7 linked regions of the Homo sapiens genome follow. The protein of the gene in region 4 purifies or fractionates together with the protein of the main gene of each other region. This does not show direct contact. Each region holds a gene or a part of one and is shown on either strand. Other genes may lie near its edges.

The links.
Region 1: the proteins of PCDHB6 (region 4) and KCNT2 purify together in Homo sapiens (affinity purification with mass spectrometry; one large-scale study listed by BioGRID and IntAct). This does not show direct contact.
Region 2: the proteins of PCDHB6 (region 4) and PNPLA6 purify together in Homo sapiens (affinity purification with mass spectrometry; one large-scale study listed by BioGRID and IntAct). This does not show direct contact.
Region 3: the proteins of PCDHB6 (region 4) and POMT1 purify together in Homo sapiens (affinity purification with mass spectrometry; one large-scale study listed by BioGRID and IntAct). This does not show direct contact.
Region 5: the proteins of PCDHB6 (region 4) and POMT2 purify together in Homo sapiens (affinity purification with mass spectrometry; one large-scale study listed by BioGRID and IntAct). This does not show direct contact.
Region 6: the proteins of PCDHB6 (region 4) and ST7 purify together in Homo sapiens (affinity purification with mass spectrometry; one large-scale study listed by BioGRID and IntAct). This does not show direct contact.
Region 7: the proteins of PCDHB6 (region 4) and SLC27A6 purify together in Homo sapiens (affinity purification with mass spectrometry; one large-scale study listed by BioGRID and IntAct). This does not show direct contact.

Annotation. Positions count from the first base shown.
Region 1 is NC_000001.11:196,339,220-196,343,100, reverse strand, and holds part of KCNT2 (potassium channel subfamily T member 2), read left to right. Parts: exon of another isoform or gene 1-45; intron 46-872; coding exon 873-1,022; intron 1,023-2,530; coding exon 2,531-2,760; intron 2,761-3,881. UniProt on the Homo sapiens protein: Sodium-activated and chloride-activated potassium channel. Produces rapidly activating outward rectifier K(+) currents. Contributes to regulate neuronal excitability.
Region 2 is NC_000019.10:7,548,956-7,552,836, reverse strand, and holds part of PNPLA6 (patatin-like phospholipase domain-containing protein 6), read right to left. Parts: intron 2,931-3,881; coding exon 2,725-2,930; intron 2,540-2,724; coding exon 2,408-2,539; intron 2,321-2,407; coding exon 2,197-2,320; intron 1,844-2,196; coding exon 1,730-1,843; intron 1,476-1,729; coding exon 1,400-1,475; intron 1-1,399. UniProt on the Homo sapiens protein: Phospholipase B that deacylates intracellular phosphatidylcholine (PtdCho), generating glycerophosphocholine (GroPtdCho). This deacylation occurs at both sn-2 and sn-1 positions of PtdCho.
Region 3 is NC_000009.12:131,512,781-131,516,661, reverse strand, and holds part of POMT1 (protein O-mannosyl-transferase 1), read right to left. Parts: intron 3,424-3,881; coding exon 3,331-3,423; intron 1,237-3,330; coding exon 1,140-1,236; intron 105-1,139; exon of another isoform or gene 1-104. UniProt on the Homo sapiens protein: Transfers mannosyl residues to the hydroxyl group of serine or threonine residues. Coexpression of both POMT1 and POMT2 is necessary for enzyme activity, expression of either POMT1 or POMT2 alone is insufficient.
Region 4 is NC_000005.10:141,148,539-141,153,192, reverse strand, and holds the start of PCDHB6 (protocadherin beta-6 isoform 1 precursor), read right to left. Parts: upstream 3,137-4,654; 5' UTR 2,936-3,136; coding exon 551-2,935; 3' UTR 1-550. UniProt on the Homo sapiens protein: Calcium-dependent cell-adhesion protein involved in cells self-recognition and non-self discrimination. Thereby, it is involved in the establishment and maintenance of specific neuronal connections in the brain.
Region 5 is NC_000014.9:77,300,382-77,304,262, reverse strand, and holds part of POMT2 (protein O-mannosyl-transferase 2), read left to right. Parts: intron 1-1,319; coding exon 1,320-1,428; intron 1,429-3,013; coding exon 3,014-3,173; intron 3,174-3,881. UniProt on the Homo sapiens protein: Transfers mannosyl residues to the hydroxyl group of serine or threonine residues. Coexpression of both POMT1 and POMT2 is necessary for enzyme activity, expression of either POMT1 or POMT2 alone is insufficient.
Region 6 is NC_000007.14:117,222,203-117,226,083, reverse strand, and holds part of ST7 (suppressor of tumorigenicity 7 protein), read right to left. Parts: intron 3,224-3,881; coding exon of another isoform or gene 3,104-3,223; exon of another isoform or gene 2,177-3,103; intron 1-2,176. UniProt on the Homo sapiens protein: May act as a tumor suppressor.
Region 7 is NC_000005.10:128,982,260-128,986,140, forward strand, and holds part of SLC27A6 (long-chain fatty acid transport protein 6), read left to right. Parts: intron 1-2,873; coding exon 2,874-3,077; intron 3,078-3,881. UniProt on the Homo sapiens protein: Mediates the import of long-chain fatty acids (LCFA) into the cell by facilitating their transport at the plasma membrane.

The sequences.
Region 1 (3,881 bases), on a different chromosome or scaffold from region 4:
AAGGCTGGAAATCCAAGATCTAGGTGCCAACATGATCCAGTGCTGGTGAGGGCCCCCTTCTGAGTTTTAAACTGCTGACTTGTATTTTCACATGGCGGGAAGATAGCTCTTTAGCATCTTTTTAAAAGGCACTAATTCCATTCCTGAGGGCTCCACTCTCATAACCTAATTGCCTCTCAAAGGCCACACTCCCAAATACCATCATAATGGGATTAGGATTCCAACATGAATTTTGTGGTTACAAGAATATTCAGTTAGTTGGAGAGATCCTTACATTTAAAATAAGAAAAGTGTCTTTTCGTGACTGCTATACAATTGGAAGAAAGTTATTGCTACGATATGAACAAAAACTAAAGGTATATTTTCTATAAAATCAAAGATAAATTGAGATAAATTTGTAATTTTAAGTATAAAGCAAAATAAAATACCTACAGCAGCCACGCAGGTATCATAGGTAAGATAACGTTGGCCATATTATGGAGACTGTACAACAAATTTTAGAAGATATACATGATAGGATATGTATATAAAGAGAGACTAAAATCCTGTATCTCATTGATTCATTGTGAGAGTAAAGCTTTTCATTAGCTGGATCTTGGAAAACTCCCACTTTCTACAAAACTGTCATTTCTCAAGCATATATATATATATACATATATATATATATATATATATATATAGTATTCAAAATTTTTTAGAAACTCTTGCATATAATGTCATCTTCAGACTTCAAAGCATTACTCAGATGCTCCTTTGGATTGTGCTTGCCAGTTCTTACACAGTTGAGAAACAGTTCTATAACAACTGTTTTTTAACCACATTCACTGTGTTTTCTTTTTGTGTGTGTGTATGTGTGTGTGCCTGTGTTGCAGAGAAGGCCAGCAATCGCCAGAACAATGGCAGAAGATGTACGGTAGATGCTCCGGGAATGAAGTCTACCACATTGTTTTGGAAGAAAGTACATTTTTTGCTGAATATGAAGGAAAGAGTTTTACATATGCCTCTTTCCATGCACACAAAAAGTATGTTTCTGCCTCAGAGAAAAATTAAAATATCAATCAGTCAAGCATATCATGTGAAAATAGTTTTCAAAAATAGAATGCATATTGTGTTCATGTGTTTAGGCATTCCGGAATTTTTGTCACAATATTCCCCAATGTTGAAACATTTGAACCCTGGTGTCTGTATGGTCTCTATAAGACAGTCAGGAGTAAATTATAATTTAGTAGGAATATTTCATTTAGCCACTTTTAAAGTCTTTTTAAAATATTTTAATCCATTAAGAATTTACATACATATGAAAATCTTCTTCACAGATCTGAATTTTAAGATGTTGATTAGGAACTAAAACAAAGTAACACTAATATTTCTAAAAACTGTACATTTGAAAAAAAAATCTCTGATGGTGGCCCTTGTTTTGGCCTGAGAAATAAGTTAAAAAATAAATAAAACTACCTTCCAATTCAAACATAGAACTTTTTTTTTCTTTTCCTTTTTGGAAAAAAAAAGGATTTACTTAAGAAGTAAAAATGTATGTATATAATGAAAATAACATATTATCTGTATTAAATGTTTTAATGTGACACATTTTGGAGGATTTACAATATACGTATATAGTCTACTAACTAATCTATTATGTAATGTACAGGAACCCCCAACTTATGATGCTTTGACTTACTATTTTTTTACCATGATGGTACAAAACAATAGCCATTCAGTAGAAACCATACTTCCAGTATCCATACAATCATTTTATTTTTCACTTTCAGTAGAATATTCAATAAATTACATAAGATATTTAACACTTTATTATAAAACAGGCTTGGTATTAGATGATTTTGCCCAACTGTAGGCAATGTAAGTGTTATGAGTATGTTTAAGGTTGGCTAGGTTAAAACTATGATATTTGTTAGGCTAGCTGTATTAAAAGCATTTTTTATTTAACAATATTTTCAACTTATGCTGGGTTTATCAGGACATAACTCTATTATAAGTCAAGGAGCTTCTGTATTCTACTTTACTTTTTTTTTCTGACTAAGTACATACCTATTTAAGACTATTTAAATATATATATTTTTTCTAAAATTTAAAGTAAACCAACTGTGATAAATTCAGGGACCCTGGTTCTCTTTCAGGTGACCATGGGTAAGTTTCTTTCCTTTGGCCAATAGTTTTAAGCTTTTTATTTATTTTTTTTAACCAAAGTAAGATATGCTGTTTATGTTTTTTGACCAAAGTAAAATTGTTGTAAAAATTCGCAAAATAATGTTACCCTTAGTGTATACATGCACTCATGTTTCTTATGTTCTTCCATTCATTTTCATTAAAATGTAAATTTATAGTGGTCATAATCAGCTAAATTGGTTTTACAACACACTAAGCACATAGTTTATTTTCCTGTAAAAATGAGGATCTTGAACTTCTAGGATCATTTCAAGCTTTAAAATGCTATTATTTAAAGCTTTTATTTTCCTCAGCCTTACAATAATTTACTAATTTTCTTACAAACTCTCTTTTTTTTTAAATTAAGGTTTGGCGTCTGCTTGATTGGTGTTAGGAGGGAGGATAATAAAAACATTTTGCTGAATCCAGGTCCTCGATACATTATGAATTCTACAGACATATGCTTTTATATTAATATTACCAAAGAAGAGAATTCAGCATTTAAAAACCAAGACCAGCAGAGAAAAAGCAATGTGTCCAGGTCGTTTTATCATGGACCTTCCAGATTACCTGTACATAGCATAATTGCCAGCATGGGTAAGTATAAACAAATTTGAAATATCATTAATTTATTTCTAAAATAAAAAATAATGATAAATACCAATGCATTTAAATTTTTATTAAAAGTTTAAAGAAAATTTCAAACATGCTGCATTTTACAAACTAGGTATGACTAGGTATACAGGACAACAGTTCTAAGTTGTGAATTTTTTAAAAAGTAAGATATTAGCCTACTGTGGTGGCATATGTCTATAATACTACCTATTCCAGAGGCTGAGGTGGAAGAATTGCTTGAGCCAGGAGTTTGAGAACAGCCTGGGCAACAGAAAAAGACTCTGTGTCCAAAAAAACCTCAATCTAAGATATTACAAAAACACAATCAACAATCATTTTATATTTCTCATTATATATAAAGCACCACACACTTTTATATTTCTTTTGTAAGTTCTCTTTGTAATTATCATCAAGAGAGGCTATTTCAAATATTCTTCATTTTCTCAAAATTCTCTTTCCATCTCTTACCTCACTCTCACCACTGAACTTGGCTTCTATGACACAGAAGAAGAAAGGTAAAAGAAAAAATACCTCCATGCAAATAAGAATTTCTTTACGGTTTGGCCTCCAAACCATCTACAAACCTACAAACATTTAGTATCTGTCACAAGGAAAATGTGTCATTTTTAACTAATACTGATACATTCATTTATTCCAGGAACCATGCCCTTGTTCCTCCTCAGAGACTTTACTCTTTAATCCCTCCTCATTACCTAACTTCATTTTCTATTCAGAATCACTGGCTGATCTCTCTCTCTCTGTGTCTCTGTCTCTCTCTCTCTCTCTCTCTCTCTCTCTCTCTGTGTGTGTGTGTGTCTCTTCATATCTCTGTGTGCACCATACACTTGTAATTTTGAACCTTCCATGATAACAACTTCAGAGACAAATTTCTCCAAAGTGTTGTGTTTAGTGGCAGGCTTTAAATTTTATTGTTGTCCTATGTCCATGATTCTACCCAGTTCAATCTGACACCTGCAGTCATATCACTGAAACTATTCAGGCAAGGTCACCATGTTCCTCTTTGTCACTACATCTAAAATGATTGTCTTCACAGTATATGACAAGAATATTGACCATGTTCTTCCTGAAACACTCTAATGCCT
Region 2 (3,881 bases), on a different chromosome or scaffold from region 4:
TTGTCTTCTAGATATTGTATTCTCTATCTGTAATTTCTTTCCTTTTCTTTTCTTTTTTTTTTTCTTTCTTTTTTTTTTTTTGAGATGGAGTTTTGCTCTGGTTGCCCAGGCTGGAGTGCAATGGCGTAGGCTCGGCTCACTGCAACCTCTGCCTCCCCGGTTCAAGCGATTCTCCTGCCTCAGCCGTCCAAGTAGCTGGGATTACAGGCACCCACCACCACACCCGACTAATTTTTGTACTTTTAGTAGAGATGAGTTTCACCACGTTGGCCAGGCTGGTCTCGAACCCCTGACCTCAAGTGATTCACCTGCCTCAGCCTCACAAAGTGCTGAGATTACAGGCGTGACCCACCGCCCCAGGCCTCTGTAATTTCTTAATGATGTCTTTTCTGCCACTACCGCCCTGCCCCCGCCTTGGGGGATCTAGGGCTCAGGGCCAATTGGGTAGAACCCCTGGAGGGAAAAGGGGTATCTAGGTTGCTGGGCTGGCCCAGAATCTGGCCACCACAATGTAGAAACTCAGGCCCTCATTTCAGCAGGCCTCCAACCCCACCGCACGCCCCATTCTGTTCTAGCTCACTGAAGCCACAGGCTGAAACAGGGGGCTACATCTCCCAGCAAGCTGTAACTTCAGAAGGCGAGGTGCCCAGAGTCCTAAACAACAATCCACAGACTATTTTCCATCATGGTATGGGGAGTTTTGTTTGTTTGCTGTTTTATTTTTTCTGAAACAGGTTCTAGCTCTGTCATCCCGGCTGGAGTACAGTGGCACGATCACGGCTCACTGCAGCCTCGACCTCCGGGCTCAAGCAATCAATCCTCCCGCCTCAGCCTCCTGAGTGGCTGAGACTACAGGCATGTGTCACCAAGCCCAGCTAATGTTTGAAATTTTTGTAGAGACGGGGGTCCTACTATGTTGCCCAGGCTGGTTTCAAACTCAATCTCCTGGGCTCAAGCGATCCTCCTGCCTCAGCCTCCCAAAGTGCTGAGATTACAGGCATGAGCCACCATGACGGCCCTGCCATCATATTCTGATCTAGGACTCCCTTTCTCTCAACGTCCAGGCCGTGGACTTCCCCAGCAAGCCCTGACTCCCGGGCAGACTACGCCAAGTCCACCGCCTAAGACTCCCTCCCCGGCACCACTGATTTACTTTCGAGCCCATTAACTAGCACGCCAGGGGTCGAGGACTTCGTTTCCCAGCATGCTCAGGAACACGAACTCCATTCCCCAGAATGCTCTGCACCTGGGTCCTACTTAGGGTTTGAAACCCTCAGGGGCACGATTTCTTCGCGGAACTCCATTTCCCAGCATCCCTCAGGAAAGAAGGCTTCCCTCCCAGCATGCTCTGGACGCCGGACTACATCTCCCAGCACGCTCTGGGCCGGCCGGCTCTCACCTGGGAAGGGTCCTTGCAGCTGCTGCAAATTCCCTAGAATTTTCTGGCTCAGTAGGTGGATAAGGCGGGTCACGACCTGGGGGCGTTGGAGGCCGGCATTTCAGTGAGACCTGGGAAGCGGCTGTCCAGGTCCCACCTCTCCCTCCTATGCCGGGGCTCCTGGGTGCCCGTTACCTGGGTCCCACCCCCGAGAGCCCCCGCCCTCACTCTCTCGCTTCGGCCCCTCCCTCGACCCCGCCCCTCTGTAAGCCCCGCCCACACACTAGGCCCGGCCCCCACCCCCCCGGAGTCCCGCCTCCGCCTCTCTGCCCCGCCCACAACAGGCCGCACCTGCGGGTACCGGCGTTTGATGTGACCCAAGGTGCCCTCGGGAAGCTTGGCCAGCTCCGTGTCGCGCACCGCGTGCACCGTCGTGGCTCGCGGCTGCCGGGTCAGTGCCTCCACCTGGGGGGCCGCGTGCATGATTGGGGCTGCTTGGGTGGGGAATGAGGAGGCCGAAGATGGGTGGAAAGGGGGCTGTACTGCCCCATCTAGGGCTCCCCTGCAATGGGGGTGTAGGGAAGCAAGCCTCGCTCGCTACCCATTAGAGCTCTGGGGAGAGGGAGAGGACAGGGATCCACGACAGGCGGAATCCCCTTTTTCCAACGAAATGAGGTCTGGGCGGGGAGTGGACTGGGTGACCTCAGAGGTCGGGAGCTGCATTCACCACTCCCTGGATTACCCGGGATGATGTGTGTGAGTTGTCGAGGGACTGGCCTGGAAAAGGCCAGAGGTCAGTGGGTGGGGGTCGCGCTCACCACGCCGATGAGGTCGCCGCGGCCGTACTCGCCCACCAGCTCCTTCTTGCCACTGCCTCGCTGGATCACGCTACGCAGCCGCCCATTGAGCACGATGTAAGTGCAGTCGGAGCGGTCGCCCTGCCTGAGTGGGCGTGGAGGTCAGCAAGGTCTGACCACCCCCAGGTCCCCACCCCTAGGCCGGGCCTGAGCAGCGCGGTGGGAGCTGCACCTGTACAGCGCGCGTCCCGCCTCCACTGCAGTCCAGTCGATGGCGAAGTCCATCTGGCGCACGAAGGGCGACATCCTGGCTGCCACCGTGTGCGCCGCACTCAGCACCACACTGGGCTGTGCGCGCATGATCCTGCAGGAACAGACTTGGGATGAAAGAGGAAGGCCTCAAAACCGTCCTACACCGGCGCTGGGAGGCCAGATCTGGGGGCTCCCTTCTGCTCTTCCAGGAGTGAGGTTGAGGGATGGGGTTCTGGCCACTCCCACGGGTTGGGGTCCTCCGAGTGCCACCCACACTCCAACTTCGGGCTGTCATACTCATAGAAGTCGGACTTGGAGATCCGCAGGAAGGTGCAGTCGCGTTGGGCTCGCAGTGTGAAGATGAGAGGTTCGCCAGTGAGCACCGCCAGCTGCCCCACCAGTTCCCCGGGCTGCGCTACGAACAGGCACACGTCCTCCGCCTTGTCGATCATGCGCTGGTACACGTGCAGGCAGCCCCAGAGCACGAAGTGCAGGCTCACGTCCTGTGCGGGCAGGGGATGTGATGAACACAGAACCCGGACAGCGTGGACCCCAGCTCAGGTCAACATGCCCCCACAGGAAAAAATTAAAGAAGAAAGGAAGGGTTAAGAAAAATATGAAGGCGCAGGGCGCGGTGGCTCACGGCTGTAATCCCAGCGCTTTGGGAGGCCAGGCAGGGGGGATCACTTGAGGCCAGGAGTTCGGCACCAGCCTGGCCAACGTGGCGAAACCTGTCTCTACTAAAATAAAAAAATTAGCTGGGCGTCGTGGCACATGTCTGTAATTCCAGCTACTCAGGAAGCTGAGGCAAGAGAATTGCCTGAACCTGGAAGGCTGAGGTTGCAGTGAGCTGAGATCATGCCATTGCACTCCAGCCTGGGCGACAGAGTGAGACACTGTCTTTAAAAAAAAAAAGAAGAAGAAGGCCAGGCGCGGTGGCTCACGCCTGTAATCCCAGAACTTTGGGAGGCCGAGGCAGGCGGATCAAGAGGTCAGGAGATCGAGACCATCCTGGCTAATACAGTGAAACCCCGTCTCTACTGAAAATACAAAAAATTAGCCGGGTGTGGTGGCGGGCGCCTGTAGTCCCAGCTACTTGGGAGGCTGAGGCAGGAGAATGGCGTGAAACCGGGAGGCGGAGCTTGCAATGAGCCAAGATCGCGCCACTGCACTCCAGCGTGGGCGACAGAGCGAGACTCCGTCTCAAAAAAAAAAAAAGAAAAAAAAGAAACATGAAGGAGAGAATAAAGACTTTGGATATAAGCACCATCTATATATAAATATAAATAAATATAAAAATATTTTTTAGCCGGGCGCGATGGCTCATGCCTGTAATCCCAACACTTTGGGAGGCCTGAGGCAGGCGGATCACGAGGTCAGGAGATCGAGACCATCCTGGCTAACACGGTGAAACCACGTCTCTACTAAAAGTACAAAAAATTAGCCAGGCGTGG
Region 3 (3,881 bases), on a different chromosome or scaffold from region 4:
GATGCAGGAAACCACCAGGTTCCCCAGTTCCACCAAGGAAGACGCATCGGTTCCCTGTGAAAACATCTGTGACTTTATGTACGAATAAAACTTATGTAACTTTACATCTGAATCAGAATTATTCTAAATATCCAACCTCAACTGGGTAAACTGAAAAAAAGGAAAAATGATTATTCTCAACGGCAGTTTCAAACATTCCATGTCAGGAAGTGCTCCGTGTGAGCAAGTGCTCCGTGTGATGGAGTGCTCCCTGTGAGGAAGTGCTCCGTGTGAGGAAGTGTTCTGTTAGAGGAAGTGCTCCGTGTGAGGAAGTGCTCCGTGTGAGGAGGTGTTCCGTGTGAGGAAGTGCTCCGTGTGAGGAAGTGTTCCGTGTGAGGAGGTGTTCCGTGTGAGGAAGTGTTCCGTGTGAGGAAGTGTTCCGTGTGAGGAAGTGCTCCGTGTGAGGAAGTGCTCTGTGTGAGGAAGTGTCCTGTGTTAGAGGAAGTGCTCCGTGTGAGTGTGAGAGTGTCCTGTGTTAGAGGAAGTGTTCCGTGTGAGGAAGTGCTCCCTGTGAGGAAGTGCTCCATGTGAGGAAGTGCTCCGTGTGAGGAAGTGTCCTGTGTTAGAGGAAGTGCTCCGTGTGAGGAAGTGCTCCGTGTGAGGAAGTGTCCTGTGTTAGAGGAAGTGCTCCGTGTGAGTGTGAGAGGAAGTGTCCTGTGTTAGAGGAAGTGTTCCGTGTGAGGAAGTGCTCCCTGTGAGGAAGTGCTCCATGTGAGGAAGTGCTCCATGTGAGGAAGTGTCCTGTGTTAGAGAAAGTGCTCCCTGTGAGGAAGTGCTCCGTGTGAGGAAGTGTCCTGTGTTAGAGGAAGTGCTCCGTGTGAGGAAGTGTCCTGTGTTACAGGAAGTGCTCCATGTTAGAGGAAGTGCTCCGTGTGAGGAAGTGTCCTGTTACAGGAAGTGCTCCGTGTGAGGAAGTGTTCCGTGTGAGGAAGTGTCCTGTGTTAGAGGAAGTGCTCCGTGTTAGAGGAAGTGCTCCGTGTGATGAAGTGTTCTGTTAGGAAGTGCTCTGTGTTAGGGAGTGCTCCGGGTGAGGAAGTGCTCCGTGTGAGGGAGTGTTCATTACTGACGGTTGTGGCTGCTATAGCCGCAGCCTTACTCACCAGTCTCCAGAGGTTCTGGGCGGGCATGGAGATGTTATAGTCAATGTAGCAGGAGACCTCCTGTGAATGGGGGCTCAGGGGGGCTGCAACATCATGCCTGGAAAACCAAGACCGAGATTTCAGAAAATTCCTTGAACTCCTCTGGAAGGCAATTACTAAATCTTTCAGGCAGGAAAAGGTTGCTTTTCAGAAACAAAGCCGGCTCAGCCATAAGGGGTGGCCCAGTCCCATGAGTTGCTGCTACTGAGGACGGAGGTCTTGAGGCTCGGCGATGGGAGTGGACACTAAACAGGCAGGAGGCCCTGTGGGAACATCTCCAAAAGAAAAGGACACTCTGCTGTGGAACCTTCCACCTGTTAGACGAGCGAACCAAGTTTCAGAGGAAGGAACCGTGCGCCCAGGCCCGATCCGGTACTGCTGCGATGCCAGCTGGCAGTACCAATGCTACAACTTGCAGGGCTGAGCTGCCCGCCCCTGCGCCCAGCTGGCCTGGGGACGCAGCAGATAAGCTGGGAGAAAAGGCTATCAACCTCAATGTTAACGAACACCCACTTCTTTTTTGTTTTGAGATGGAGTCTCACTCTGTCACCCAGGCTGGAGTGCAAATGGCGCGATCTCAGCTCACTGCAATCTCTGCCTCCTGGGTTCAAGCGATTCTCCTGCCTCAGCCTCCTGTCTAGCTGGGATTACAGGCACATGCCACCATGCCTGGCTAATTTTTGTATTTTTAGTAGAGACGGGGTTTCACCATGTTGGCCCAGCTTGTCTCCAACTCCTGACCTCAAATGATCTGCCCACCTTGGCCTCCCAAAGTGCTGGGATTACAGGTGTGAGCCAGCACGCCCGGTCAGGAACACCCACTTCCTCTTAATCCACACACTCAGTAACCATGTGGTACCGCACCATGCACCTGGCACTGTCTAGGAGCAGCCACCCAGCTGTGAACAAGACAAGGCCCTCACAGCCCTCTGGGAAACAGCCATCATGCCGGTGGGCAGAGCGTGCACCTGTAGGAGTGCCACTAATAAAACAAATGGTGGGGGACAGCACCCAGGAGGCACTTTTGGATGCAGTGACATCCCAGCAGACCCCTACATAGAGGGGCCATGGGGGAGCCAAGTCCAAGAACATTCTCGCAGAGGGAGCAAGTGTGAAGCCCCCAAGGGGCCCGCAGGTGGTTGTTTCAGGGCTGGGGGGAGCCAGGGTGGCGGGGGTGAAGTGTGTCAGGGTCACCAGGGACCTTGGCGGGTGACGGGAGTCACTGAGCACAGAGGAACAACGCAAGTGGGTTGTGCACGGTCCGCAGGCCGGACAGGCTGCTGCGAGGTAGAGAGGTCAGGCCCCAGGAGGTGGGAGTAGAGGGAGAAGGAAGGACCCCTACCCAGGGCTGGTTCTGAAGGTTGAGAAACAGGATCTCCCAATGGAATCAACATGCAATGGGAGGGGAGGGGAAGGAGTCAGGTGATGCCTCAGCTACTGGGCCCTTTCCAGGGAGAACCAGAAAAGCCAGGGCCAGAGACCGCCCCTGTGGAGCTGGGAGTCGTGGAGAGCTGGAGGTGAGCCCCGGGCAGCCGGGTGGAAGTCCAGGAGAGGTAGCCCCGGGACTGGGCCTGTGCAGAGGCAGCAAGGCCGGAGGGCCCTCAGAGACTGAGAGCAACAGAGGAAAAGGAGGCGGTGGAGAGAGCAGTCAGGGAGGAAGGAGGAGGGTGTGAGCAACTGTGCCCAGCACCACGGGAAGGCAAGTCGGACAAGGACGAAGGACTGAGAAGGAAGAAGCCTTCACGGCTCCACTCGTGCCCGAGCTTCCAGGCTTCTTGGACTCACTCATACTTTAAGCTTGACCACTTTAAGGAGGTGTGCCCAAACTCCATTCTCTGCATAGAAAGCGGGTCAACATTCCCAGCCTGTCCTTGTACACTCATCCACGGGGCCCTGAGCTCTCCTAGGATGGGCTGTGCTAGGTGCTTCTGTCCAGTCCTCACAGAGCCCCTGCTTCCTCTTAACCCCGCTCCCTTCCGCGGCCAGGCCTGGGTCCCCTCCCGGCATCAAATGTAGGTCTAAGAGCTGCTACACATGCAGATGATGGGTAGACAGGGGGCAGCGGCCCAAGGCAGGGCTCACGTTTTGGTCTGAACAGAGAACCACAGAGGAAACCCACAGGTGCAGCAGAGCAGACGGCGGGCACACTCACGTGTTCAGGGAGCGGGTGGTCATGCCGTGGACCAGCTGCACCATGTCCCCGTGCCTCACAGGTCTCGGAGGGCTGCTCACCACCAGCTGGTGCCTGGAAGACACAGTGCTGTCGGGACCACACAGAGCCTGGTCCCCTCGAACTAACAGCTGCACCGGAGGGGCACAGCTCTGAATTCTCATGGCTGAGACTGCCTCCCAACCCATGTGTGCCTCACATGAGGTGAACACAGGAAACCAAAGCACAGACATTAATTGGGCTCTTTTCTGAAACCAAAGGTCATTTTCCGAATGTGATTCTACCCGCGGTCATCACACCTGCATTGCTCTGAATTTGTCTACAAACACTACAGTGACAAATGTACCATGACTGCCAAGGAATCCTTCTGAAGGGCATTCCACCAATGAAAGTGTATGAGGGGGCCGGGCGTGGTGGCTCACACCTGCAATCCCAGCACTTTGGGAGGCTGAGCTGGGTGGACCACTTGATGTCAGGAGTTCAAGACCAGCCTGGCCAACATGGTGAAACCCCGTCTCTACTAAAAATACAAA
Region 4 (4,654 bases):
CTAATGTGTTGACACTTCAGTAAAGTCTATAGTCACAAAAATTTTGGATTGACTATTATGGGATACTAAAATATGCATAAGTATGAATGGCTACTTTAGTGTTTAGCCATCATTAGTTCTTATTTTTAGTGTTACACACTGTAGGAGTTACTGCAAAATGAGACATTGGAGGATTAAATAATATCAGATACTCACATTTTAAACAGTCCTACATAGCAATAGTGAAACAACTCTTACCAATAGCTAGAAATACAATTTTACTTAAGGATTTACAATACTTTTTTTTGGGGGGGGGAAGAATAGATAATTTAATTTCAAAAGCTTAAAATTATGCAAATAAAAATTTACTTTTTGTTCATATTGTCAAGTACCCTCAAGTGAAGTAATAAACTACTAAGCATGAACAGGAAATACTAAGATACCAGTATCTTACTTTATATAAAATTTCAACCTAAAGAATAGAGGTAAAATAAACAAGAAACAGACCATGTAACTTTAAGTTAAAAGAGATCTCCAAACATAAGTAAGATTTAGTAAAATAATCCCACACTTAACTGAACGGGAAGCTATTCCGAGAGGTGGGGGTTTCTTCCATTTCTCTCTCAGTGCCCTGAGGAGGGAAGTTGGGCATAATCGGCTTCAGGAACTTGAACTCATTTGTTTCTGAGCCTCCCGTCAGACACACCTTGTACTGGTAGCTCTGGGATAGGGTCCCGGTGCCGCTCACATCCACCAGATGCCCTGGAAAGGGACCCTCGGGCACCGAGTAGCGACCCACCGAGGCCGCCCTGCTCCTCCTGCACAGCCGCACCGCCACGAACAGGAGCACCGAAAAGAGGAAGAGCGACGACACCGAGGCCAACGCCACCACCAGGTAGACGGTGAGAGAGTCGGCCTGGGCTTGGGCCGGGGCCGCCTCAGGGAGAGGCAGGTAGGGCTGGGAGAAGCCGTCCACCAGGAGCACGTGCAGCGTGGCGGTGGCCGAGCGCGGAGGCTCGCCATTGTCCTTGACAAGCACCACCAGCCTGTGCTTGGCTGCGTCTCGCTCGCTCAGCAGCCTGGCGGTGCGCACCTCGCCATTGTGCGCCCACACGCCGAACAGACCGAGCTCCGTGGCCTTGAGCAGCTGGTACGACAGCCAGGCGTTCTGGCCCGAGTCGCCGTCCACCGCCACCACCTTGGTCACCAGGTAGCCCGGCTCGGCCGCCCGGGGCACCAGCTCGGTGCAGGGCGCGGAGCCGTTCTGCAGCGGGTACAACACGAAGGGCGAGTTGTCGTTGGCGTCCAGCACCAGCAAGCGCACCAGCGCCTCGCTGCTCAACGCCGGGGAGCCGCGGTCTGTGGCGCCCACGCGGAACTCGAAAGACTGCAGGGCCTCGTAGTCCAGCGACCTGAGGGCAAACAGGTGGCCGTTGTCCGCGTTGATGGAGACCAGGGAAGAGAGGGGCAGGTGCGGGTCCTGGGGCGGCAGCAGCGAGTAGGTGACCTGGGCGTTGATGCCTGAGTCTCTGTCTGTGGCGCTGACGCTGCCGATGTGCAGGGCGGGGCTGTTGTTCTCGCGGACGAACAGGGTGTAGGAGGTTTGGGTGAAGGCGGGGGCGTTGTCATTGACGTCGGAGACCTGCACAGTTATGCTCTGCTGGGTTTTCAGCCTTGGTGTCCCCAAATCAGTGACCGTGATAGTGATGTTGTACTCGGCTCTGCTCTCTCTGTCCAGCGCGCCTTCTGTTACCAGGGTGTAGAAATTCTCCACGGAAGGTCTTAGTAGAAAGGGGAGATTGTTCTCTATTGAACAAATAACCTGTTGGTTATGTCCAGAGTCTGCATCTGAAACACTGAAAACTGCCACTGTGATCTCTGGTAAGTTTTCTGGGATGAGGCTGATGAAGAACGACATGGTGAGTTCAGGGGCATTGTCATTCACGTCCAGGACCCTGACGACTAAAGAGCATTTTCCTGATAGGCCTCCACCATCTGTAGCCTCAACATCCACGTCATAAGACTGAATTTCCTCAAAATCCAAAGCCTTTCTCAGCCGAATTTCTCCTGTGATTGCGTTTATTTCGAAGGGTTGGTTGACGTCATCGACTTGAAACAGGGCGTAAGATACCTTCCCAAACGATCCTGCATCTAAATCTCTGGCTGAGACGGTAATAACCAGAGAGCCGAGGGGGTTGTTCTCAGGGACTTGTGCTTCATAGAGCTCCTGAGCAAACTCGGGGACGTTGTCATTGATGTCCAAAACCTGGATCTGAATCTCGGAGGTCCCTGACCGGGGCGGAGACCCGCCATCCAGCGCGATCAGCGTTAGCCTGAGTTGGGGCTGCTCCTCGCGGTCCAACGGTTTGTCTAGCACCAGCTCCGGGAACTTCCTGCCTTCGCTGCGATTGCGGGTGAGAACGTGGAAGTGAGGGTTGGAGCTGATTGTGTACCTCTGAAGGCCGTTGCTGCCGGTGTCTAAATCGTGTGCCATTTTCAAAGGAAATATCTTTCCTGGCATAGTAATTTCTGATATTTTCAGGAGCATTTCTCTGGCAGGGAATTCCGGGGCGTGGTCATTTATATCTCTGACTCGCAAGGAAGCCTGAAAAAACTGCAAGGGGTTTTCCAGTAACACTTGGAAAGGTAGCACACACGGCTCAGTGGAGCCACACAGCTCCTCCCGGTCCAGTTTTTCATTTAGCAGTAAATCATGGGTCTGTGGATCAAACTGCAAATGTTGTCTGTTCCCTTTGAAAACAACCCGAGCGCCCCGCGAAGCCAGCTCCCCCACCCTCAGTCCCAGGTCCTTTGTCAAGTTGGCCACAAACGTGCCACTTTCTGTCTCCTCCAATACGGAATACTGAATCGATTCAGAACCCACCTCTCCCCAAAGCATCAATAAAATGAAGAAAGCCACTTGCCTTTTCTTGTTCTGTACTTTAGTTTGCATCATGTCTATTATGTCTGAATACGGAAGAAAAATCCTTTTCAGCTCCCAATCACCACATCTACCGTCGACCCTCTCGGATGTCTTTGCAGAGATTTTTAAATTCGTTCTTACAACTTGTCTGGCGACGACTGCCTTCCCGGACACATCTATCTCAGCTTTAGCTGTAAACGTGGTCTGTATTTTTACTTGGCTTCTGGATGAAACGGAGTCCACCGAGTCTGCAGAGCTTTCATTCACTCTCTTAGCTTGTACCGCCACCACGCGTTCAAACTAATAACTTCATGAGATGTTTTCAGGTCAATAGCATTTCAGAAATCTGAGCATTATAAAGACTTTTAAGTCGAGTCAGTGTTTCTCAAACTGAGTGCGTGGACCGCATGCATAAATAATTGCTTGCGAGCGTTGGTTTTTTTGTGTGTATGTTTTTGTTTTTAAGCCAATTCCTGGGTTCACTCCCCTCTAGAACTTGAATCAAATTCCCTGGTGGTGCTAATTAAGGAGAAAGATTGAAGTGCAGATTCTACACTTCAGTCTTTCTCCTTTGATGCTTCAGCAGTGCAATTTATCTCTGATGAACTATTTAATCTATTAGTCCAAGAGGTACACTATTTAATTGTCCCAACAAACAATGCAAAACAACGAAGTTTGTTAGCAACAATAATGGTAAAATAAACAATAAATTATCTAAATTATATGACTCATAAATGGCATGAAAAAAAAAACCTACTTTGTTATATAGTTATGCCTGCACAGTAAAAAGAACAATTAGGCTATTAGGAGGAAAACTGAGGCCAAGAAGTACGTATGATACATGTATCTAAGTAAATTAAAGTATTTAAAAGAGGGACTAGAAGCAATCAAGTAGTTGTCATAAGCATTTTAGGATTCTACTCCATTTTTGCATGGATAGAATTAGACATTGTTTTAACAGTCTTGTGCATTTTATTTTTTGATCAAATTCCCCTCTTACATTATTTAATCAAGGTCCAAATATATTACCGTGTTGTACAAACATGATGCAACACAGAAAACAAACATTCAAGAATCACCTTCACCGTCTTCTCACAGCAAAAAGAACACCAAGTCCAATAAATACAGGCCAAATTAAGGTACTGTTAAAACAGGTGAGTTACATTTGAGTGAATGCCATGGAATTCAATGATGGAATATTATGGCTATATCCATTCCCATCTCACTAGTTTCTACTCAGATACATTGGAACATGTATCTCTAAACAAACTGAAAATGTGTGAAATAGATTAGTGCACATAGAAGAGGTAAAATATGCCAAACAATTCAATTCATTTCAGATTAATTTCATATTTATTGAGAGGTGAAATCAATTGAGTTCAAACAAAGTTCACTTCAGGTAAGGGCCAAGGTGATAGAAGATTAAAAATCAAGATATTTTCAAATACATAAATGCTAGGCAAAACAAATAAGGCTAAATAAAATCTAAACTCTGAATAGCTGAGATGATCTTGTAGTTCAAAATCACCTCTATGTAGCCAGAAAAACAAAAGATTATGAATGTGACCAGCCTCCAGGGTTCACTTGATAGATGCTACTGGGAACACACTGTTCCTTGAGAATGTAACAAAATGAAATTATGAAATAAACCAACAATAATAAACATATTGGACTGGTGTCATCTCTTTGCTGAAACAAGGCCATTATTTCCTGCTCAATCTTAAATGCTTCCTTCTTTCGGTGAGCATTCTG
Region 5 (3,881 bases), on a different chromosome or scaffold from region 4:
TAGCAAAATGGGAACTTGGATAATAATCTTCACATGGATAAATGAGAGTTCATCGTAGAAGTTGATCCTGTTGCTAGCTTTGTTCCTATGAAAGTGAATTCATGACCTTGTGGAGCTTAACATTTAAAGAAGTCTAGACCAATTTAAATGGGGTACTTTAGGGGTTTGCTTTGACAGATATGTTGCTTTGTTTTGACAGATAGATTGCAAGATTATTGGCTTTCTCTATAGAGGACTGGTGGCTTTTTCCTTGTATCTTGAATTTCCATCTTCAGTTATTCATTCATTTAGTCATTTATGTACTTTTCATTCAATAGTTATTTCTCAAGCACCTACCCAGCTCCCGGCCACTTTTCTTAGTCTGAGAGGATACACTGATGAGTCACTCTGGTCTCATTGAGCTTACCTCATCGTGGGGCAGACAGTAAATAAACAAGTAAATGAATAAGTCTGTCATGTGATGTCCTAAGCCACAAGTGCAGTGTAGAAAATAAAGCAGTGTAAGGGATGGAATAATGGAGATCAGTACTATTTTAGACAGGATAGTCAGGAAAGAGCTTCTGAGAGGGGAGCTTTGAGCAGAGACCTGAGTGAGACAAAGGATCAGGCCCTGCAGGGATCTGAGGGAAGAGCATTCAGGCAGAGGGAAGTGCATGTACTGTAGTTCTGGTGTGGACCTCTGTGGGTTCAAATCACAGTAAGAAGGCTGGCGTGGAAAGGGCAGAGTGAGTGAGGCAGAGGGTGTTGGGAGATGAGGTTAGATGGGTAGGGAGACCGCACAGACTCTGGCAGTTGTCATGAGAACTTTTTACTTTGAGTGAGGTTGGAAGACATTGGAGGGTTTAAGCAGGGGCATGACATAATGAGATTTAAGGATTTAAATTAAAAAACATCACTCTGCCATCTGTCTGGAGAATCGACCCCCAAGAGAGACTTCATGTAAAATGATAAGATTCTATCATAGGTGTAGATAGTTTGCGGTTACATGAGCAGAGTGGTAGGACTCCCTTTTTGATGGTGGAAATGAGGATGACACCTTGTCTCAGGGCTGGTCTGAGGGAGCGAATGACATGATCCTCTCTTGGGTTGAGGGCCTAGAGGCAGTGTGAGTTACTGCTTCTTGTCATTGGGCTTTGATGTCTCCCAGAGCTGTGGCCTTCTACCTCCCTGATGACTCAGTGTTGACTCTAGTCCTGACTGCACAAGTGCTTACACTCAATTAAGTGGCAAGAGGGACTGTTTCCTACTACTGGGGTGCTTGGTTTTCAGGGGGCCCTTCTCTTACCTCGCTTTTTCACCAGCGAGCTCATGTTTTTCAGACACGGGATGCCTCACTCTGTCCCAGTACATCCTCCTTGACCCCATCCTGATGTTCTTCATCATGGCTGCCATGCTGAGCATGGTCAAGTACAACTCTTGCGCCGACAGGTCAGAAACTCCATCCCCGGGAGGGGAGGGTTGGAAGCTGTGGCAACTCCAAAATTTCTGTAATGGCCAGGGCCAGGGCGGGTGCCCAGAGACTTGTCTTGAAGCTGATTTTAAGGCAAGCATACTTTTTGTTTGTTTTTTTAACTTAGATTGTCCATTTTAGATCATAAAAATAGATTTTAAAAAGTTTTCTACAGGTGATTTTATTTTTGCCATATTCAAGACCGAGAAAATGTCAGTTGTCTTTTTCAAGCGTATTATTATTATCATGTTTACAATGGAGTACAATTGGGTAGGGGTTTTGGGATATCATGGGGGGTCCTAATACTTTCCCCACCCACCTCTTGTAACCAGTGCTGGTTAGGAAATCCCGGGACAGGGCTGTCCTTCACATACTCTGTCCTAGAAGGGAGGGCACCAGGGTAGATGCTGCCTGGAAACTATCTCCCTTTCGTCAGTGGTTGCATCCAGTCCTGACCTAATGATGGGAATAGCATATGTAAAGGTTGGCTTGAATGGTCCATACCAGCCAAGAGGATCCTTCCAGGTCCTGGTCAGTTCTAAAGCTGACTTGGAGGGTCCGGTCTACTTGCAGAATAGTCTTTTCCAGATCATCCTTCTACTTCTGAGAAAGTAGAATAAGTCATTCATTCTATTCAAACCAGAAGAGTTGGCCCCTCGTAGGCTTTTCTGGAAGTTAACTTTGCACAGCCAGGCTCATTAAGCTCCATTGTGCTAATCAAACCTGATCAGTGACTCTCAGCCCACTCTGGCTTTGGTTGTTGTGCTTATGCCACATCCACTTCCATCTACCATTTCTTGAGTACATACTGTGTACCAGGTACTATGCGGGGAGCTGGAGGTACTGAGCTCTGTTGGGCTTGGCTGTTAAGGAATATTCACTCTGGCAGAGGAGGCAGCCAGAGAGCCAGAGAATCATAGTGTAGAGTACTAGGTGCTATACGAATAGCAAAATGGTTAAGAGCACTAACATTGACCCAATTGCCTGGGTTAAAACTGTGCCCCACTGCCTGCTAGCTGTATTACTCCACCTCTCTGTATCTTGATTTCCTCCTGTGCAAAAAGAGGACCTAGTGACAGGATCCTCTGTGTGCTGTAGTGACGGCTAGAAGAGTTAATATATGCATCGTACTTGGAATGATGCGTGACGCATACATAGTAAGCACTCGGTAAATGCTGCCTTCGACAAGGGCAGAGGTGACACAAAGGAGAGGGCTGCCTGAGTCCAGGGGCACCTAAGGATTCTCCTTTTACTCCTGCCTGACTGGTCACTTGTGAAGAAGGAGCCCCCACTTACCCTGAGCCCTGTACTTAGCCAGGAGCACTATGGACACTCTCCCCTGAAGAATACCCTGCGCCCTCAGACAGTGCTTTTCCTGCCGTTCCAGGGGTTTCACAGGCCGCCTCCTCCATGGAGCCACGCCATGGTCCCTTGAGGCTAAGAGCCCCCAAGACAGGGCACAGCACAGCCGCTCCAAGTCTGAGAACTGCCCTGTCCCCTGCTGCGCTTGCGTTTGGCTTTGGTTCCAGCTGCCAAATTGAACTCCGTCTTGTTGATTTTCAGGCCCTTCTCTGCCCCCTGGTGGTTCTGGCTCAGCCTGACTGGCGTTAGTCTTGCTGGTGCTTTAGGGGTCAAGTTTGTTGGCCTCTTTATCATCCTTCAAGTGGGGCTGAACACCATTGCAGACCTTTGGTACCTGTTCGGAGACCTCAGTCTTTCATTGGTGAGCACCCAAGGGTTTGCTGTGGAAATGTTTTTGCTCCCTGATGTTGCTGAGTAGGAGCTGGTGGCCTTCTCTGTCTCTACTGCAGGTGGCAGAGTGGCTGTGTTCTGGGTCCCAGGTGGGCTGGACCCCCCAACCTCCGCAGACAGCAGGACATCAGGGAGTGGGCCCGGCTGAGGACTGGATAGGGTTCAAGGGAGAGGATAGATTAACATTCTTGGAAGTCTCTTTTTGCATTTGTTTTATAATGTCTGTCTTTTTTTTTTTTTTGAGATAGAGTTTCACTCTGTTACCCAGGCTGGAGTGCAGTGGGCCGATCTTGGCTCACTGCAACTTCCGCCTCCTGGGTACGAGTGATTCTTTTGCCTCAGCCTCCCAAGTAGCTGGGATTACAGGCACATACCACCATGCCCAGCTAATTTTTGTAGTTTTAGTAGAGATGCGGTTCTACCATGTTGGCCAGATTGTTCTCAAACCCCTGACCTCAAGTGATCCGCCCGCCTTGGCCTCCCAAAGTGCGGGGATTACAGGCATGAGCCACCGAGCCCGGTCTGAACTCACAATTTTCATTTCCTGACCCACGGTCTCCATATTTGGAGGCCAGTAAGGGCCTTTACAGTTTATTATTTATTAAGGGCTGATTCTATGCCAGGCACTATGCGAAACGCTTTACCTTCATTATCTCATTTACCCCTCATAATAGTCCTA
Region 6 (3,881 bases), on a different chromosome or scaffold from region 4:
GAGAGTCAGAAATCAAGAGGCTCAGTCTCGGAGAAGGAGAGAGACAAGAGAAGGAAAGACAGAGGGGTCAGAATCCTGACCTTCCCACATTCTGTGAGGAGGTGGGTTTGGAATGATAACGTATTTATATGTGCAAGCTTATCTTTGTAACTAAACATTCTAGGAAGAGTTAGTCCTAAATCACTGAGGTAGATTAGATTAGGGGGAAATGCCAGTGGAAGCTGCTCTTTCCACTATTTCCCAGTGGTTCACGCTTCCCTGTGGGCTTCCTTATGGACTGCACATCATGGTCACCAAGTAAACATGCTGGAGAGTTCCCAAGCCAGCAGCTGGGGGTGGCAGTGCAATCTCTCTGCATCTACTAAAGGTCATTGTCCCAGGGACATTATCTCAGCAAAGGGCTGAGAAAATCACTTTCACAAGCTGCAAATGGTCGCAGGCAGCCTCTAGGGCAGTTGCGATAACCTGCGGGGTGTGGGGTGTGGCGTGGGAGCTTCGGGAGGGGCCTGATGAAGTGACCAGGGTGAAGATGCAGAGAAGACTCTGGGGGCAGGTCGAGGAGGCGGCGGGAGAAGGGGCTTGTCTCATTCAGGCCATCCATCTTCCTTCCCCACACAGTCTCTACAGACATTTTGGAAACTGCTAGACCTTAATGAAGGGCAAGATAAATGTGATTCTCCAGATAGAGGTTGAAATGCAAACTTATCTAAAGTACATTTGAAAACTATGGGGAGCTGACCAAACTACCACACCTTGGTAGAGCAGAAAATATGAGGACCCTAAAGGCAGATTTCTATTTTATTCAATCATTTGATGCTATACTCAAAACCAAAGCTTTGAAAACATGAAATGAGGCGAGTTGAGTCCTGTCCCACATCCTTAATGAACACCCCTCTCCGATACTCTGGAAGCACAGCTGTACGGCCAGTCCTAGAGAACACCCAGGTGTATTCTAGTCACTATCCTTCCCTCTGCATTGCCAATCCCCTTGCTGGTTAAAGCAGGCTCAGGCAATTATTCATTCTATTCAATACACTGGTTGTACATCCGCATCACCAGGGGAGTGCTTGACAACTGAGTTGCCCATGCGGACCCCAGACCAAGAAAGTTCCGGTTGTGGGGACAGGCCTCAGTAACTTTTAAGTTTTTCGATGATTCCAAGGTAGAGCCAGGGAAACCACTGATTCCTGAAAAGCTTCCACCTGAACAGCTGTGATGGCACACCATGCAGCTGCAAGTGGCTGCTCGAAGGTTCAGCTTTCCAAGCAGTGTCCCTGGAAGGAGACGGGAGAATGCCATCAATCTCCATCCTCAGAATATGCTGGGGGCTTTGTGAAAAATACAGATACCTCCTGCTAATACTCAAGATTTTGGATTTCTGGTGGTGCGGCCAGGTGAATATATAGACTGGAGGCTGGGAATCTCTACTGATTCAAAACTCCCACCAAGTGCTATTACAGTTAGTTTAATGAAGAATACTGGACTAATGACATATTTTTACAAATATGCTCTAAAAATGTTTAACAGAAAAACAGAAAACATAAAAGAGCAATAATTGTTTAATGTAAATATATTCTTATTTTAAATTTTACTAAGTCACACTCTACTCAGAGTTTTGGCAACTACTTTTACTCAGAGATTGGCTAGGGAGTAGAAGAAAATAACAAGTAGTGTAGGCCCATAAACTAAGGAACATCCAAGGCAGCAATATGGGTGATAATGGGTGTAGAAATCATGTCATGCACAGAAGACTTAAGGAAATGTAAGATATTCTACCTGGAGGAAAAAGCAGGTAGTTGGTTAGAGGTGGCCATGAATGAGTGAGCTGTCCTAAGAATTTGCAAGAGGAAGGAGGGCTGCTTGGTGTACCCTCAATATAGAATAGGAATAAGTGGAAACCAAAGGGAGGCAGATTTTTACAGTACAAGGAAAAGTTCTGAGTCATCCAATAATCAAATGGGCTTTGATGTTTATAAATATGTGAGTGCCCCATCACTGAAAGTATTCAAGATGAGTCTAGGTGACCTCCACTCAGGGTTGCTATTAAAGGCAATTTGCTTCAGGTCCCTTTCAACTCTAAGAGGCTATGATTATAAGTATACAAGAAGAGAAAAAAAAATACTAAGCTGTATCTGATTTTTCCATTGATTCTTTCTGCAGAGACCACTACCATTTATTATTTATTTAATAATCATTTATTGAAAACCTACTATGAGCAAGGCACTGTGCAAAGCCTTGGGGATACAGAGATAATGAAGACACCGTTCTGCTCTCAAGGAGCTCACATTCTAAATGGGACAGACAAGTTTTCAACAATTATAATACAGTACAATAAATGTGAGAATATACGTATTCATGGAATACTGCGGGATCATAAAGGACAGACACCTAACTCAGCTTAGAAGAACTTTAAAGAAAGCTGAGTATAAAAGAATGAAGAGGCATTAGTAGAGTGGATGAGCAGGGTGGTGACAGTGAAGGGCATTCCACGCACAGCAAACAGCACGTGCAAAGGTGCAGAGGTGTGCGAGAGCCTGGTACATCTGGGAATGGTGAGTGATCCACTATGGCTGAAGAGCAGTGACTGTGCAAGAGTTGGGAGAGCTAAGGCTGAGAGGTAAGCAAGGGCCAGATCATAAAGAGTCTTGGATGCCATGCTGAACAACTAGGACTTGATCCTGAAGTCCCTGGGAATCCACTGGAGAAATTTAAGCAGGGAAGTGACATGCTCACATGTGCAATTCAGAAAGACCATTCTTGTGTCAGTATAAAAGAAAGACGGTGGAGGATAAGACAGGAAGCAAGGAGACCAGTTAAGACTATGGCAGGAGTTCAGGCAAGAAACAACAAGGACCTAGACTAAGAGGGATGCTTTGGGAAAAGGAGGGAAAGAAGAGGTGAATCACATTTACTGAAGGCCTAGTTGCTTAGGAGGTTAGAACTGACAGATTGTGAAGGCCGAGACGATGGGATGTGGGGAGTGAGAGAGGGAAGAGTTTGGAAGGGCTGCCGAGTTTCCGGCTTGAGCAACGGGGTGGATGGCGGAGGTCAGGAATACAGGAGGAGGAGCAGTTTTGGTGGTGGGGGAAGAGGGGTGATGAGTTCAGTTTTGGAAATGTTGAGATTGAGGTGCCGGAGGGATTTCCAGTTCATCTTCAACACGCATGAAAATACTCTTGCAATTCCAGTCCCTGAACTCTGCCGAGCAGAAAATGTCAATCATCTGGAAAGGGATTAAATCAACCCAGCCAAGTTAGAAATCATCCTTTCTGATTGCACTCGCCTTGAAATCTGAATGGAGTTCCAGGGAAACAATTGATACTGTTTTCCTTATTCCTTCTGTTTGAAACTCATCTGTGGCAAGATCAGTAAACTTATCCTCAACTGCATGTGCAGGTTGAAATGGTCAGTTTTCAACAAAGAAACAATGGTTCTTGGCTGTCAATGCAGATGGCTTTTCTTATTAAAGCTCCTCTCCCCAAGCTCCTTAAAGACTCTTAATGGATTTCCATATTTCTAAATGTCATTTCAGTTTACTTCTTAATAAGCCCTTTACACCCTCTGTTCATTCCTTAGACAAGCCAAGGGTTTGCAGCCATTAAAAAAAATTATTTAAATCATCTTTGAAAATGTAAATCTCATCCTTCACTAAGGAAAGACCCACAATATCCAACGATTGGAAATAATGTCATTCAATTTACAGAAAACCGAGTAACTTCCCACACATTTTCATTTGCTAGGATTTCCTAAATCATTCCATCCTTTTGGACCTCCTGCATTTTTTGGAAACTGCTAAGAATTTGTTGTGAAATGAGGCAAGGCATGCAGTAACAACCTGCACTTTCTCATTTGACCCTTAATGCTTTGATTCCATTGACGAT
Region 7 (3,881 bases), about 12 Mb from region 4:
TACACTAAATTCTATTTGAGAATTCTAAGCATCTCACCTAAATAAAATTAATTTTAACTTATGAAAGAAGTGACATTGTATCTCCTCTGATTCCTAGGAACCTTCTCACTTTCTTTTTTCTTGCTGTAAAAATTATCACTCTTGGTAAATACTCAGTTTCTTTGGGCTCTAGAATTCCAACAAAGATTTGGAGCCACACTTATTCATATTTTAACTTTCTTGGCACTTATTTCCCCAATTTAGACATACATATCATTAAGAACATATAAAAGTTTGTGCTGGGAATTTCTTATTCTAGATGAGAGATTTTGAAATTAAAGTAATGAGTCAGTTCAGAGATTTGCACTTACAAGTTCAAAACCTGAGAAAGAGTCATTACAACAAAATCTGGAACAAACATTAAAAAGAAAGTCTAGATCCTTTGCTTATCCAGTTTTTCATGTTTCTAACTTGTCACTCCTCCTATCATCCTTGGTGATTTTTCACATTTTGCCAAAGCAATCTATATACAGCAGCATGATGTGTGTGTGTTAAGTAGAGCTAGGCATTTTCCCTGGATTCTTATATTTTACTTAGATTTGTTATAGAAATAAAAATTAATAAGACATCTTAAGGCTATGAACCCCACTTTCCACCGCATATCAACTTCATTATAATTTCTGTGTTGCCTTCTATTTTCATACAGGTTTTATTTATAAACTGCTTAGTCCCACTTGACATATTTATCTTGCTGCTGCTTTGTGATCAATCTGGGTTATAGATTTCATGAAAGTAAATCAAGAGTTTTCCCCCAATGTATTTCATTGTAGTAGAACTAACCCAATGACTGATAGTTGGCCTTTTGAGGGAACCAGATACTGATTTATGTTTCCAGGGAAATGTTTAATGCAGAACTCTGAATTCAAACTCAAAGCAGAATATATCTTGTGATTATTTTAAAATTTTTCCTGAAAAAATTAGAAAAAATATAATTGCTTTAGGTGTAAAGGTCCACATTTTCATGTACAGAACTTGAGCATTCTGATCCGGGTTTTTTTTTTTTTTTTTTTTGAGACAGAGTTTTGCTCTTCTTGCCCAGGCTGGAGTACAATGGCGTGATCTCGGCTCACTGCCACCTCCGCCTCCTGGGTTCAAGCGATTCTCCTGCCTCAGCCTCCTGAGTAGATGGGATTACAGGCACCCATCACCATACCTGGCTATTTTTTTTGTATTCTTAGTAGAGATGGGGTTTCACCATGTTGGCCAGGCTGGTCTCGAACTCCTGACCTCAGGTGATCCACCTGCTTCGGCCTCCCAAAGTGCTGGAATTACAGGCATGAGCCACCGGGCCTGGCCAATCTGTATCTATTTTACATTTAGCACCATTATTTTTTCTTTTTTGCCATTTATTTCTTTTATGAGGTAATTTTATAGTTTTAGAGTTAGTCTATGGTTAGATTACTAATTCTACCATCCACCAACTTGTGAGCTTGATGTATGAGTTTCCTAAGGCTGCTATAATGAAGTACCACAAACTTGGTGGCTTAAAACAAGCGAAATTTATTTTCTCACAGTTCTGGGGGCTAGACATCCAAAATAAAGCTGTCAGCAGAGCCATGCTCCCTCAGAAGGATCCAAGAATTTTTTCTTGTCTCTTAGCTTCTGGTAGTTGCCAGTAATGTTGGACTTCCCTTGCATTAACTCCAAAAGGCCAGTGGGGTACTATTGTTTAATATCCCCAAGGACGTTAATATAGATTTTAAGATAACCTATATAGCACTCAGAAATCCCTTGAACCTTCTAAATGTATAGCATATTATAGAAATAAGGAAGTAAAATCAGAGTTGCCATGTAGAATATAAAAGTTGAACTTCATGTCAGAGATCCATGCTAAAGTAAGGGAGTGGTGAATTTAAAAAGAATTTAAATAATATAAATAATTGTATGCCTGTCTACTCTGGAGAAAAAAATGATGCTTCACTTGCTTACACAAAAGACTGTATAGGAATGATGACATTGTTTCTTTTGTATCCCACAGAGTGTTGGTTACCTCAGTGCTTAATTATTTCCTCATCAAGGACCCAGTCCCACCTTCTGTCTCTCTTGTTTTCACCACTACTCCTCTCTTGAACAGATGATATTTTTTTCCTGGGTTACTGGGCAAATCAGGAAGGTCTGGTTAAGTTTCACAGATTAACTCAACATAGTCTCACCTCACCAGTTGCTCCTTTGTTATCCTTGTAGCAGATCCTTCCTAAGAAACTTGTCCCTTTTTCTTTCTGAACCTTAAATTGCCAATCACCCAAACTGTGAATTGTAAACATTGTACCCAATAGGTAATTTCTCAGTCTTCACCTCTCTCTCCCACCCTCCCCCATTTTGGAGTCCCCACTCACTTAACTTCTGGCTTTGGAATGATTTCTAAACCACAATGATCTTGTGATTTCAGAGCAGTCGGGGATTCTCCCAAATGTTTTGCATTACAGTGGAACTGAAGAGTAACCTGCAGACAGCTTTTGGAATAACTAGCTACTGAGTTGTACTTCAAGGAAAATGTTTAGTGCAGTATCCTGAATTTAGATTCAGACAGAGTTTTAAATAGTTTTATTTAAAAATTGGTGGAGGGAAACCCATAATTTGAATAATGGAGTCTCTTAAATTCAGTCTGAATTGGACTGCTTGCATTGGTCTGTCAGGTGATAACTAAATTTCCCTTTCAGTTGGTCCTGTTGAAACGGAACCATAAAATGACTGTGATATTACTTATCCAACATAAGAAGGAAATCAGCATTTTATTTACATTTTATCCCTGTTTCAATACACAAAAGCAACTCCAAAGTGAATTGTTTGAGATTTAAGGTTTGCTTAACTCTTCCCAACCCTTTGGCTTTTAGATTTGCTTGGAACGGTAGAAGAAATCCTTCCAAGCCTCTCAGAAAATATCAGTGTTTGGGGGATGAAAGATTCTGTTCCACAAGGTGTAATTTCACTCAAAGAAAAACTGAGCACCTCACCTGATGAGCCCGTGCCACGCAGCCACCATGTTGTCTCACTCCTCAAGTCTACTTGTCTTTACATTTTTACCTCTGGAACAACAGGTATGATCCAATTCTTTTGAAGGCTAAAATGAATGCGAGAAATTTGCAAAGCAACAGTGTTGGGCAAATTTCTACCATGTGTAGTGACCAACCATCTGAGAATGCATGCTTGCAAGAAGATGTAAGGATCTCAGAGGCTAGAACTTTCCAACTTGGATGGAAAGTTAATTATCTTAACTTTTACTTGAAAAGTCATTGTGTTCATTTGGCATTTGTCTCATTTGACAAGATTTTCTTAAAGTTTGGTAGTACAAAGGGCATGGGAGTATCCAAACACCTTGATCCAGTCTCATTGCTCAGTGTATGATACTTGATACTTGATTTTTTGGGCAAGATCTTTGTTAGCTTCTCTGATCCTCAAATTTCTGATATCTAAAATGAAGAAATTAGTTTAAATAGTTTCTACTGATTCTTTTGGATTTAAAAAGTGTTTTAATGTACTTGAAAACAGTTCTCTATATTCCTGTGTAAATTATTAAATCCTAAACATAATCCAGGTATACCGGCAATTTAAGCACCTGTTGCTGGCTCTCCTGATTTTGGTCAGGGTAATTGAATCATGTGACAAACAGGAACTCTTGAAGGCACTGCAGGTTTGGACTAAGATACAAAATAAAATCAAGTAAATAAGCTTTATTTTAAGTAAACAACAGCAATAACAATAATAAAACTGCCTGAGAATTCAAAAGAAGGGCCTGGCACAGTGACTACTCACACCTGTAATCACACACTTTGGAGGCCAAGGCAGGAGGATTACTTGAGGCCAAGTGTTTGAGACCAGCCTAGGCAACACAGTGAGACCTC